Homo sapiens: one gene and its partners. The protein of the gene in region 2 purifies or fractionates together with the protein of the main gene of each other region. This does not show direct contact. Each region holds a gene or a part of one and is shown on either strand. Other genes may lie near its edges.

The links.
Region 1: the proteins of GCH1 (region 2) and CAMKK1 purify together in Homo sapiens (affinity purification with mass spectrometry, with the first as the bait; one study listed by BioGRID). This does not show direct contact.
Region 3: the proteins of GCH1 (region 2) and PPM1B purify together in Homo sapiens (affinity purification with mass spectrometry, with the first as the bait; one study listed by BioGRID). This does not show direct contact.

What each region holds. Positions count from the first base shown.
Region 1 is NC_000017.11:3,886,405-3,890,056, forward strand, and holds part of CAMKK1 (calcium/calmodulin-dependent protein kinase kinase 1), read right to left. Parts: intron 1-3,652. UniProt on the Homo sapiens protein: Calcium/calmodulin-dependent protein kinase that belongs to a proposed calcium-triggered signaling cascade involved in a number of cellular processes. Phosphorylates CAMK1, CAMK1D, CAMK1G and CAMK4. Involved in regulating cell apoptosis.
Region 2 is NC_000014.9:54,843,827-54,847,478, forward strand, and holds part of GCH1 (GTP cyclohydrolase 1), read right to left. Parts: intron 3,305-3,652; coding exon 3,273-3,304; intron 2,027-3,272; coding exon 1,942-2,026; intron 318-1,941; coding exon 191-317; 3' UTR 44-190; coding exon of another isoform or gene 1-43. UniProt on the Homo sapiens protein: Positively regulates nitric oxide synthesis in umbilical vein endothelial cells (HUVECs). May be involved in dopamine synthesis. May modify pain sensitivity and persistence.
Region 3 is NC_000002.12:44,203,365-44,207,016, reverse strand, and holds part of PPM1B (protein phosphatase 1B), read right to left. Parts: intron 1-3,652.

The DNA of each region.
Region 1 (3,652 bases), on a different chromosome or scaffold from region 2:
GTGGATCACCTGAGGTCAGAAGTTCGAGACTAGCCTGGCTAACATGGCAAAACTCTGTCTCTATTAAAAATACAAAAATTAGCCAGGCATGGTGGCGTGCACCTGAAATCCCATCTACTCGGGAGGCTGAGGCAGGAGAATCGTGTGAACTTGGGAGGTGGAGGTTGCAGTGAGCCAAGATCACGCCACTACACTCCAGCCTGGGTGACGGAGCAAGACTCGGTTTCAAAAAAAAGCAAGGGGATGAGAATGAGGGGAATGAGGGGTGAAACAGGGGCATGACATCCCCTGAGACTCATGTTCTCAAACTCACTGTGTGGCGGCTGAAACATCAGGGAGGTGACCCCCAGCCCTCACCTTCAGCCATGACCCTGGGCTACATCCTGACCCCGGACTGAACCCTGACACTCAGCCTGAGACCCCCATCTCTGTCCCAGGCTTGTAGAGCGCTGGCCATGCCCAACCTGATGCCCTTCCCCCTGCTTGCGCTGGACTCTGCATGTTCTCAGGAGAAGGAAGTGAGTGAACTCCTGACCCTCCATCCTTCCTGTCTGCTGGTAACTTCCTCCGAACCCACACAGCAACTGAGAACATGGGTCTCAGGGAGACCCAGAGTACGCATGGTGAAGCGCCTGCTCTACCGCTCGTTCCCCATCCCCTTGCTTTGACAGATGTCAGCGAGGCAGGGCTGGCTGGAGTCCACCGGCCACTGAGGAGCCAGGACTGGGTTCCAGTCCTGCCTGCTGACCCACCAGGGGCCCTAGACCAGCTCCTTCCCGACTCTGAGCCCCAGTCTCCCGACTTGTCCTGTGGATTCCCTGCCTTCCCATATTTTCCAGGCTCACAGCAGGGTTTGGAGGTAGACTGAGGGTAAGGGTGAGGTCCAGACCCCCTGTGCCCGGTACGCAGTGTGTTGAATGAGTAGAAGCCTGGAGGCGGTGGGGCTGGTGCTGACATGGAGAAAGGAAGAGAGGAGGCTCCACACTAGGAACAGGAAAAGTCATGGAAGCTGGACCCAGAGGAGTGAGAGGGAGTTAATGAGGCTGGAACATCAAGGAGGCCTCCCTGGAGGAGGTGAAGGAGGTGAGGAGGCTGAGTGAGGCTAGAGTATCAGGGAGGCCTCCCTGGAAGAGAGGGCAGGAGACAGTGAGTGCGGCTGTGGCACAAGGAGGCCTCCCTGGAGGAGGTGAGAGGGGACAGGGAGTGGGGCTGTGGCACAGGGAGGCCTCCCTGGAGGAGGTGAGAGAGGACAGAGAGTGGGGCTGTGGCATAAGGAGGCCTCCCCAGAGGAGGTGAGAGGCTGTGGCATAGGGAGGCCTCCCTGGAGGAGGTGAGAGGGACAGTGAGTGGGGCTGGAGCTTCGGGGAGAGCTTGGAAACCAGACAGCATAGGAAGGAGGAAGCCAAAGCTGGGAACACCCTCCAGGACCCGCCAGGCTCCTCCCAGCAGGTGGCCCACCCCTCCGCCCCTTCCCCTCACTCCGCATGCCTTGTTTTTCCCTCCCGAATGTAAGTTTCATGAGATTAGGACGCTCATCTGCCTTGTCTCCAAAAGATCATCAGTGCCTGGCATGTGATAGGAACTCGATAAATATTTGTTGAATAAATGAGTGGTTGCCATAGTGATCGTTACAGCCCTGTCCCCATTAGACAGATGAGAAAGCAGCCTCAGAGAGGCAACCCCAGCAAGCCTCAGGCCCCAGCACATATAACAGAATGAACTCCAGAGTCAGGAGCTCCTGCTTTTTGGCCCTAGGCAGGGACTACGGGACTCAGAGCCGCCACAGGCAGAAGCCACAGGCTGCCCGGGCCCATAAAATTTGCGTATTTCCTTGAGGTTGCCATTCCAGCAAGAGGCCATCCTCCTTTACCCTTGAACACCTTTCCCTGCTTTTCTTAGATAGGTAGAGGGAGGCCCAGCGGGTGGGGATGGGCCCGGGGTCACCCAGCAAGTCGGGGCAGAAGGTTTCCTGTTCCAGCCTGAGCCCTGTTACCCGGTTTGGCGCCCAGGCTCTGAAGCCAGGCAGCCAGGCTGCACCCTTTCCTGGCTGGGAGCCCGTGAGCAGGTGGCTTCGCCTCTGTGCCTTGGGTTTTCCTCGCCCGCAAGATGGGGTTCTAGCGGGCCTCACCTCACCGCACGTGGTGAGATGCTGAGGAGGGAACGCCCGTAAGGCGCTCAGAACAGTGCCTGCCACTAAGGAGGCCGTAAAAGTGAGTTGTTGTTGTGCGGCTGCTGTTGTGATTGCTCGGGACACGCTGAGGCCCAGATGGATGCGCGGGCGGGCGGAAGGCGGCCGCGAGGGCTGACGTCAGGCTCCCCATCCCTCCCTCCCGCCTGGATCAAATTCAGGTGACTAAGCGCGTCTGCGAGGGAGGCGGCCGGCCGGGGAGGCCCGAGGTTCCTGCCGCGTGTCCGGGAGACAGGGCCTGGCGCCCCGGCCGCGTGTGTGAGGGCGTGTGTCCCCACAGGAGGGAATATGTGTGCGCAGGCTGTGGACCAGGGTGGTGGCGTGTGTGTGTGTGTGTGTGTGTTGTGGGTCCCCACACAGGAGCGCACTGCATGGAGATGAAAACCTCGGTGTGATGTGTGTGTGCGCAGGTGTGTTTATGCGCCTGTGTGCCTGCAGGTCTCCGTGTACCTATGCCCAGGGTAGGGGGGTGGTCCGCGCCCCTGGGGGCCCTGGGAGCCTGATCCCAGAGCTCATATCTGGACTTTTCCCCATAGTCACTGGTCCCACCAGCCTGGCACTGCCTGCTGGGCTGGATTCTGTGCCCCGGGCGGAAACCCAGGCCCATCTGGAGGCTCACACAGGGGGTGTCTCAAGGCCCTTCCCAAGCTCAGGCCTTAGTAGATACTCTGTAGAAACTTAATTCGGTGGATAACTAGGGCCATGTGGGCAAACAGAAAGATGGACAGACAGGCCGGGAACCAGGCCCATGGTACAGCGAAGGATTCCTGTGGGCATGGGCACTGGCTTAGTCCTGCGGCCGTGAACAGCCAGACTCAAGCCCTCCCTCATTGGGAAAAACTACTGCAATCCTGTCCCCCCAGACTGGGGATCTGCTGCCTCGGACAAGTCATCGAGCCTCTTGGAGCCTCTGTTTCCTAACACGTGCATCAAGCAGAAGGCCACTGTCCTGCCAACTCCCAGGGCGATGGAAGGAACAGAATGAGGTGTGGACACAGGAGTAGTTTGTGCCACAGCACTGTGGGGCTGGGATGTGGCTGTGTCTAGAAGCGTCCAAGAGAGCCTTGATGTGCAAGGTCCAACCCCACCTCTGCCCCCAGCTCCAAGATGGCCTGGCACATATCCCCCACCCAGGTTTTTCCTCCCAGGCTGTGCCCCACCCCCCAAGCGTCTGGCCACTCCCAAGGAATGTGGGCCCCCGGCTCCAGACGCCCACTTGGCCTGGCTTCTTCCACAGGACATGCCCCATCCAGCTGCATCCCTCAAAGGAGCCCCAGAGCAGGCAGACCCTGCTGCCATCCACGCGGGTTCAAGTAGCTCCACCTGGGAGCTGGTCAGGCCCTGGTCAGGCCTCATTCTGAGCGCTGGAAGGCCGCTGTGAACCCCAGTGCCAAGCCGAGGCAGGGGACCAGCTACATCCAGGCGAGGGGATGGACAGCCGTGACCAGCAGAGGACCGAACAGA
Region 2 (3,652 bases):
AGAAAGTAGAGGGCTCAACCCTTTATTATATTTATTTGACTTCCTAGAAATAATTTTAAATATAATTAGTGACAAGGAATAAAGTTCACATCTGTAACAATTGAAAATGGAATGTACAAACAAGACCGGACAGACAGACAATGCTACTGGCAGTACGATCGGCAACCAACGCACACACACTGAATGAAGCTCAGCTCCTAATGAGAGTCAGGAACTCTTCCCGAGTCTTTGGATCCTCCCGGAACACACCCAACATTGTGCTGGTCACAGTTTTGCTGTTCATTTTCTGTACACCTCGCATTACCATACACATGTGTCTACAAAATAAGGCAACACAGGTTGTTTAAAGGAGTAGACAGCTGCTGGTTTGGTTTTTAAAAGCAGGCCTAAAGATTAAATCTCAGCTCACAGTTACCAAGTATATCGAAATATCCCTTCTTACACAAATGTTATCTATTAGGTTCATGCAAAAGTAACTGCGGTTCTTGCTATTGAACATAATGGCAAAAACTGCAATTATCTTTGCAGCAACCTAAACTTTTTGTTCTTGAAGTTGTCTTGCAACTTTTATTTTTATCAGTAGTTGATCCTTAAAGCATCCAAAAAGGGGAAAAATGGAATTTTCTTCTGGGGTGAAAGTAATATAAAAGGTCTACAGAGTTACTTAACTTCTAGATCAAAAGAAAGTCAGAATTCTCACTTGCTCTGCCTTCAGGACCAAGACAGCACTATGCTAGCCTAGGTGTTCAGATAAATGCTCAAGTATACTGATGTCACCAGGCAGAATTCAGATAATGGTGACCAGAGATCCTGTCTGAGCAACCTGGTGACATTAGATACCAGACATAGAACAGAGTTCACACCACGTCACAGAACACATATGAACTTTGTCCACACAACAGCTGCAATTCTCTTAACTCATCCTAACTTAAAGAAATGTACCAATTCTTGGCTTTATTTTTTAAATGTGTGACAAAATATTAGAAAAACTCGGCTTGGAGCAACAGAGAGCTAAAGAAGAAATCAAGAGAAGACATAAAATCAAGAGAAGACATAAAAATGGCTATTGGCGTGGTGGCTCACGCCAGTAATCTCAGTATTTTGGGAGGCTGAGGTGGGCAGATCACTTGAGGTCAGGAGTTTGAGATCCCCAGCCTGGCCAACATGGTGAAATCCCATCTCTACTAAATACGAAAATTAGCTGGGTGTGGTGGCGGGCACCTGTAATCCCAGCTATTTGGGAGGCTGAGGCAGGAGAATCGCTTGAACCTGGGAGGCAGAGGTTGCAGTGAGCCAAGATCACACCATTGCACTCCAGCCTGGGTGAGAGAGCAAGACCCTGTCTTGAGCATTTTTAAAAAATGGCGATTGAGCTGGGCGCAGGGGCTCACGCCTGTAATCCTAGCACTTTGGGAGGCCGTGACGGGTGGATCATGAGGTCAGGAGTTCGAGACCAGCCTGGCCGACATGATGAAACCCCATCTCTATTAAATATACAAAAATTAGCCGGGCATGGTGACACACACCTGTGGTCCCAGCTACTCGGGAGGCTGAGGCAGGAGAATCGCTTGAACCCGGGAGGTGGAGGTTGCAGTGAGCCGAGATTGCACCACTGCACTCCAGCCTGGGCGACAGAGTGAGGCTCCATCTCAAAAAAAAAAAAGGCTATTGATTATGCAAATCTCTACACCTGTGCTTTTAACTCCCTATGCCTCCACAAGCCCCATCCTACCCTCAAAAAATACTTCTCCCATATTCTGTTCCTATATCAGTAACAGTAAATGAAAGTGGTAAAAGAGCTTTAGGCTCAGGGATGGAAATCTACAGTTATCATATCAGTTGTGTGGCATCACCTGGTGCTACAAAATATGAGAAGCACTAAATAGCAAGATCACTTCTAGTGCACCATTATGACGTTACTAAAGGCAGATGCAGACTTACGTTGCTTCAACCACTACCCCGACTCCAGCAGGCCGCAAGGCTTCCGTGATTGCTACAGCAATTTGTTTTGTAAGGCGCTCCTGAACTGTGGATGTGATAAGGAGCTCAGTTTGAGAGTCTGACACAAACAGCTGGAAGCTTTTTCTGTCTCTAGAACATTTGAAATCTTAAAAATCAGACTTCTGTGAGATTTAAGAGCCAAGACACACCAGCTTTTACCAGACTGCTTTGTCTGCTGACTGGGCCACAGAGAGGCCCGGATTCAACTCCCTCACCTGAAGTACAGGGCTAAAGAGATCTCAGAACACCCTGAAGCCCTCCAGCATCACTGCGGGAAGGAATTAGAATAGCAATTATCTCATACCTGTGCAGTTAGAACAACACAGTACTGGTTACCAAGCACCTCCATGGAGGTAAAGTAGTGCAGCAAATAAATAGCCTGCAACAGGGTTAACAAAGGGGCTGCAGTCCAATTATTGAATTGTGCTTAGAGCAATGTTGAAAACCAACAATTTAACCTAAATAATATAGTTCCTGTCCTGAATAAAATGACTTGTCTTTTAATTCATACAGGAATATTCATTGCAGCACTGCATCTATTTGAAAACTGATGAAACCCCCCAGTATCTATCAGAGCTGGTATAGGTTACGCCAAGCCATGGCATATACGGTAGGATTCTAGACAGCCACCAGAATGAATGAGATAGTTACATGGATGTGGCAAAAATGTTTAAGATTTGTTAAATGAAAAAAAGCAGGGAAAAAAGCAAGGCTGATTATGTATAAAATGAGCCCATTTTTGTTTAAACATAATCCAAATAAATTGATTTGAAAATGCAGGTATATGCATGAAAATGTGAAGGAATGTGCAAATACAACAGTGATTTCTTCTGGAAGCTTGAAACAGTAGACTTTTTATAGTCCTAAGAGGTTTTACATTTTTATAAGTCATACTTATCGCACTAGTAATAAAACAAAAAATACTTTTTGTGTAGGAAAAATGTTTTCTGTAGCCAGGCACAGTGGCTCATGCCTGTAATCCCAGCACTTTGGGAGGCCAAGGTGGGCAGATCACCTGAGGTCGGAAGTTCGAGACCAGCCTGATCAATATGGTGAAACCCCGTCTCTACTAGAAATACAAAAATTAGCCAAGGCATGGTGATGCACTCTTATAATCTCAGCTACTTGGAAGGCTGAGGCTGCAGTGAGCCGAGATTGCACCACTGCACTCCAGCCTGGGTGACAGAGCAAGACTCTGTCTCAAAAATAAAAATTTAAAAAAAGAAAAAAAAGAAAAATGTTTTCTGTTAATACAGATTTTTAAAGCTTACCTTGTAGTCTTCTACTATAGATTTCTACAATCCTAGAAAAGAAAGAATTGTTTTAGTTAATCACAAATCATTTGAAGTAAAATTGATAAGCCTTCCTCATAAAACAAAAAGGACATTGTTGAAGCAAGTGGGCTGCAAGAGGAAATAAAGCTTATGGCAAGATGACAGAAAGATACAAGTACCACAGGGAGATGTAGTCTAAAGTCAACTTGATTGGATTGAAGGATGCAAAGTATTGTTCCTGGGTATGCCTGTGAGGGTGTTGCCAAAGGAGATTAACATTTGAGTCAGTGGGCTGGGAAAGGCAGACCCACACTTAATCTGGGTGGGCACAATCTCATCAGCTGCCAGCGAATACAAAGCAGGCAGAAATATATGAA
Region 3 (3,652 bases), on a different chromosome or scaffold from region 2:
TCATTCCTTAATGAAACCCACCAAAACTTTTATATTAGAAATACTGTATGTGTTTGGTTATATGAATATACTTGTATAAATGTCATAAGGGCAGTTCAAGCAAAAATTTTTAATTAAAAATAATTTTAAAGTACACCATGGATATTCAAGAATCAAACAGCTGGGCATGGTGGCTGCCTGTAATCCCCGCAGTTTGGGAGGCTGAGGCAGGAGGATCATTTAAGGCCAGGAGTTTGAGACTAGCCCGGGCAACACAGTGAGACACCCTTTCTAAAACACAACAACAAAAAAAGAATCAAGCATAATTACACTTTATAAAGCAATTTTATGCATAAACGGAATTAACACCTTACACTTTTAGAAATCTAATTTCTTTTAACCCTTTTGAGTTTTTGGTAACAACAACATGAGCATTGTGGAACATTTCCTTATCTAATTTCCATTCGATTTTTGTAAGTTATAAAATATAAATACTTTTGGAAAATTAATTGAAAGAGAGTTCCAATAAATTTATGGTTCTCCAAAGACATTTAAGGGAAATAATTTATATTTACATCTCAGGCATGTGTGATTTCAGTGATGTTGCTTCTTAGCCACCTTGCCTGGCTTGCTTCTATTTCTATGTAAAGATGGCTTTCCCCTAAACACCAAGTATGAATATGTTTCAGTAGCTGTTATACAGCAACAGAAAAGGTCCTTTCCTTTGTGCCATTGTTTTTTAGAGACAAAACATCCTTGTATAATCAGTATAAAGTTTTCACTAAGTCCATAAATAAAACATTTTTTTTTCTAAATCCAGTTTGGATAACTAAAGAAATTAGCTCTGCATATAAAAATTGATTATTACATGTTCTTTTTACTTTTTACAACAGCACAGCAGTTAACACTCTTAATAATCATAGTACCAGATCAAAGACGCCAGTGCCCCTGCCATAAATAAGGGCATCTAAACTTAAACAGAAAACAATCTGATACAGTTTTTTGTTTGTTTTTGTTTTTTTGACACGGAGTCTCACTCTGTCGCCCAGGCTGGAGTGCAATGGCGCGATCTCAGCTCACTGCAACCTCTGCATCCCAGGTTCAAGCAATTCTCCTGAGTTTAGAACTAAACAATTATTGAGGGGGTTACATTTTCTATGTTATATAAATTAATATAGAATGATGTTGCCTTTGGAAAATGATAATTTCCCTCAATTTTATCCAACTATGAGGTACTATCTCATGTTTTAAAATAAATAGGCTTCTGGTAGATGGTATATAAATGAAATTTTGGAAAATCAAATAATGTTTTAAAAGAACAATTTAAAAGAATACCGACTTTTATAATTTAAGAAAAACAAAACAGGTGACAAAGTAACAAACATAGCATGATCTTTTTCTATAAAATACAAAAAAAGAAAAAATCCTATTTTACGTTTATACATTTCTATCAATAATCACAGAGAACCATTTGGAAAGATATACAGCAAACCATGAGCAGTGGTTCCCTAAGTGAGATGAGACTGGAAAGCAGAAACATCAAGGGGAATCACTTTACTTCAAACATCTCTGTATTTGTTACAAAAAAAATTTAGTCTTAATGTTTCCCTTGGGGAAAAATTTCTCAGACCATGAAAACCGAAACAGACAGACACTTACACACACACACACACACACACACACCCACACCCACACCCACACCCACTCTTCTTTATTTTATCAGGCCCTTCTGGGAAATATTGTTAACAAAAATACTAAACTTGAGTCAGAAAACTAGTCTCAGCCTCAATACTCACCAAGTATATGACTTATGGATATCTTTTAATATCAAACAACCTCCATTTCCTTACTTGCAAATTAAAAAAACTTTTTATTTTGTTCACCTCAGAAAGTTACTATGAGGATTAATAAGTATGTATCATTTACAAGTTATGAAAAGCTATGCACGTGGCAGTTACATATTTTAAGCAACCCGAAATTAGTTGGCAGTAAACACCATAAATGCCAGCATTGCAAATAAAATGGGAGGGTTGCTTTCTTAGCTCCCATTCTCCCCTCGAGTTAAATACCTAATTTAAATAGGATAATACCTGACCACAGTCATACAACACTTACAGATTAATATTAACTGGCAACCCTGAAAAATGCTTATCTTTTTTTTTTTTTTTTTTTTTTTTTTGAGACGGAGTCTCGCTCTGTCACCCAGACTGGAGTGCAGTGGCGTGATCTCGGCTCACTGCAAGCTCTGCCTCCCGGGTTCAAGTCATTCTCCTGCCTCAGCCTCCTGAGTAGCTGGGACTACAAGCGCCCACCACAACGCCCGGCCGATTTTTTCTATTTTTTAATAGAGACGGGGTTTCACTGCGTTAGCCAGGATGGTCTCGATCTCCTGACCTCGTCATCTTAACTACCTCATATGGTTGTGAAAATTACATGAGTTAAAATATGTAAAGTATTTAGAATAGTGTTTGGCTTACAGAAAGCAATAATTTACTAATACTACCACGATTATGATTATGATAACCTCCCAAGATTTAATGAGTTAAGATAAAAGTGCTTATAAATTATGAAAGTATGACAAGTGATGGAGGTGTTAGAAAAAACTAGGACTTCATTTAAATCTCTTATCAGGGAAACATCTACTTATTAATGTTTCCTCTCCTCTTACAGCAGGTAACTACTGTGCAATCGCTAAGTGCTTTCCATGAATTTTTAACTTACAATTTTTCTGAGTAAATTCAAAGTAATTATATTTGATCTTATTGCTAACCCTTGCTTTTACAATACAAATAAATGGAAAGACAAAATTACGAAGTTAAACAGAAATGAAGGTTTCCATAAGTAACTTTCAAAGGTTCAAAAATAATTTTAAGTCTGTTTTGTTTCAATTCAAACCTCCAAACTGATTTCAATTTGAATGCAGCTCCATTAGAAGGAACTATGATGGTCAGCTTCCATTAACATTGAATGAATCATGGGCCCCAACTTCTTGTCTGTTATTATCATTCCTCATTTCTGAGATTCTAGGATGCCATCTAGAATCTTTTAACACCATCAACATGAACATTTAATCACTCTAAATTGATAAAAGCTAGCAAGTGAAGATATACCACCAGAAATATTTAAACCTCATTCAGAAGGGTCGAGTCAAAATTCTCAAAAACTAGCATCCTTTCAATGGATAAGTGAGTTAATCTACTAACACAAACTTCTTTCCTTAGTCCAAATTACAGACCTAATAGATTTTTTGGCTATTCCCTCACAACCTCATTCTTTCAATAAAATACTACGCAGCCAAGAAAAATGATACAGATCAATACTTATAGGCATGGAGATCTCTCTACAATATATTGTTGGAAAAGGCAGGCTGTAGAATAACAAGTATAATCATCTCGGTTTTATAAAAATACACACACTCACAGGCAGGCAGAAAAGACTGGAACAATATACACCACAACAATGAAAGTAGCTGACTTAGGGTGGATGGCAAAATTTTGGGTGTTTCTCTATATTTTCTTCATCATCTGGATTTTTTTTCCAATAGTAAGTATATACCTTTTTTTTATAATTGGGGAAAATGCTGTTTTCATTAGCTAGTCAGGCAACAAACATATGCCTATGCTTGTCTCAAAAATCTACAGGTCAGAATTGCTTCATTTAGAGTTCAAAGACA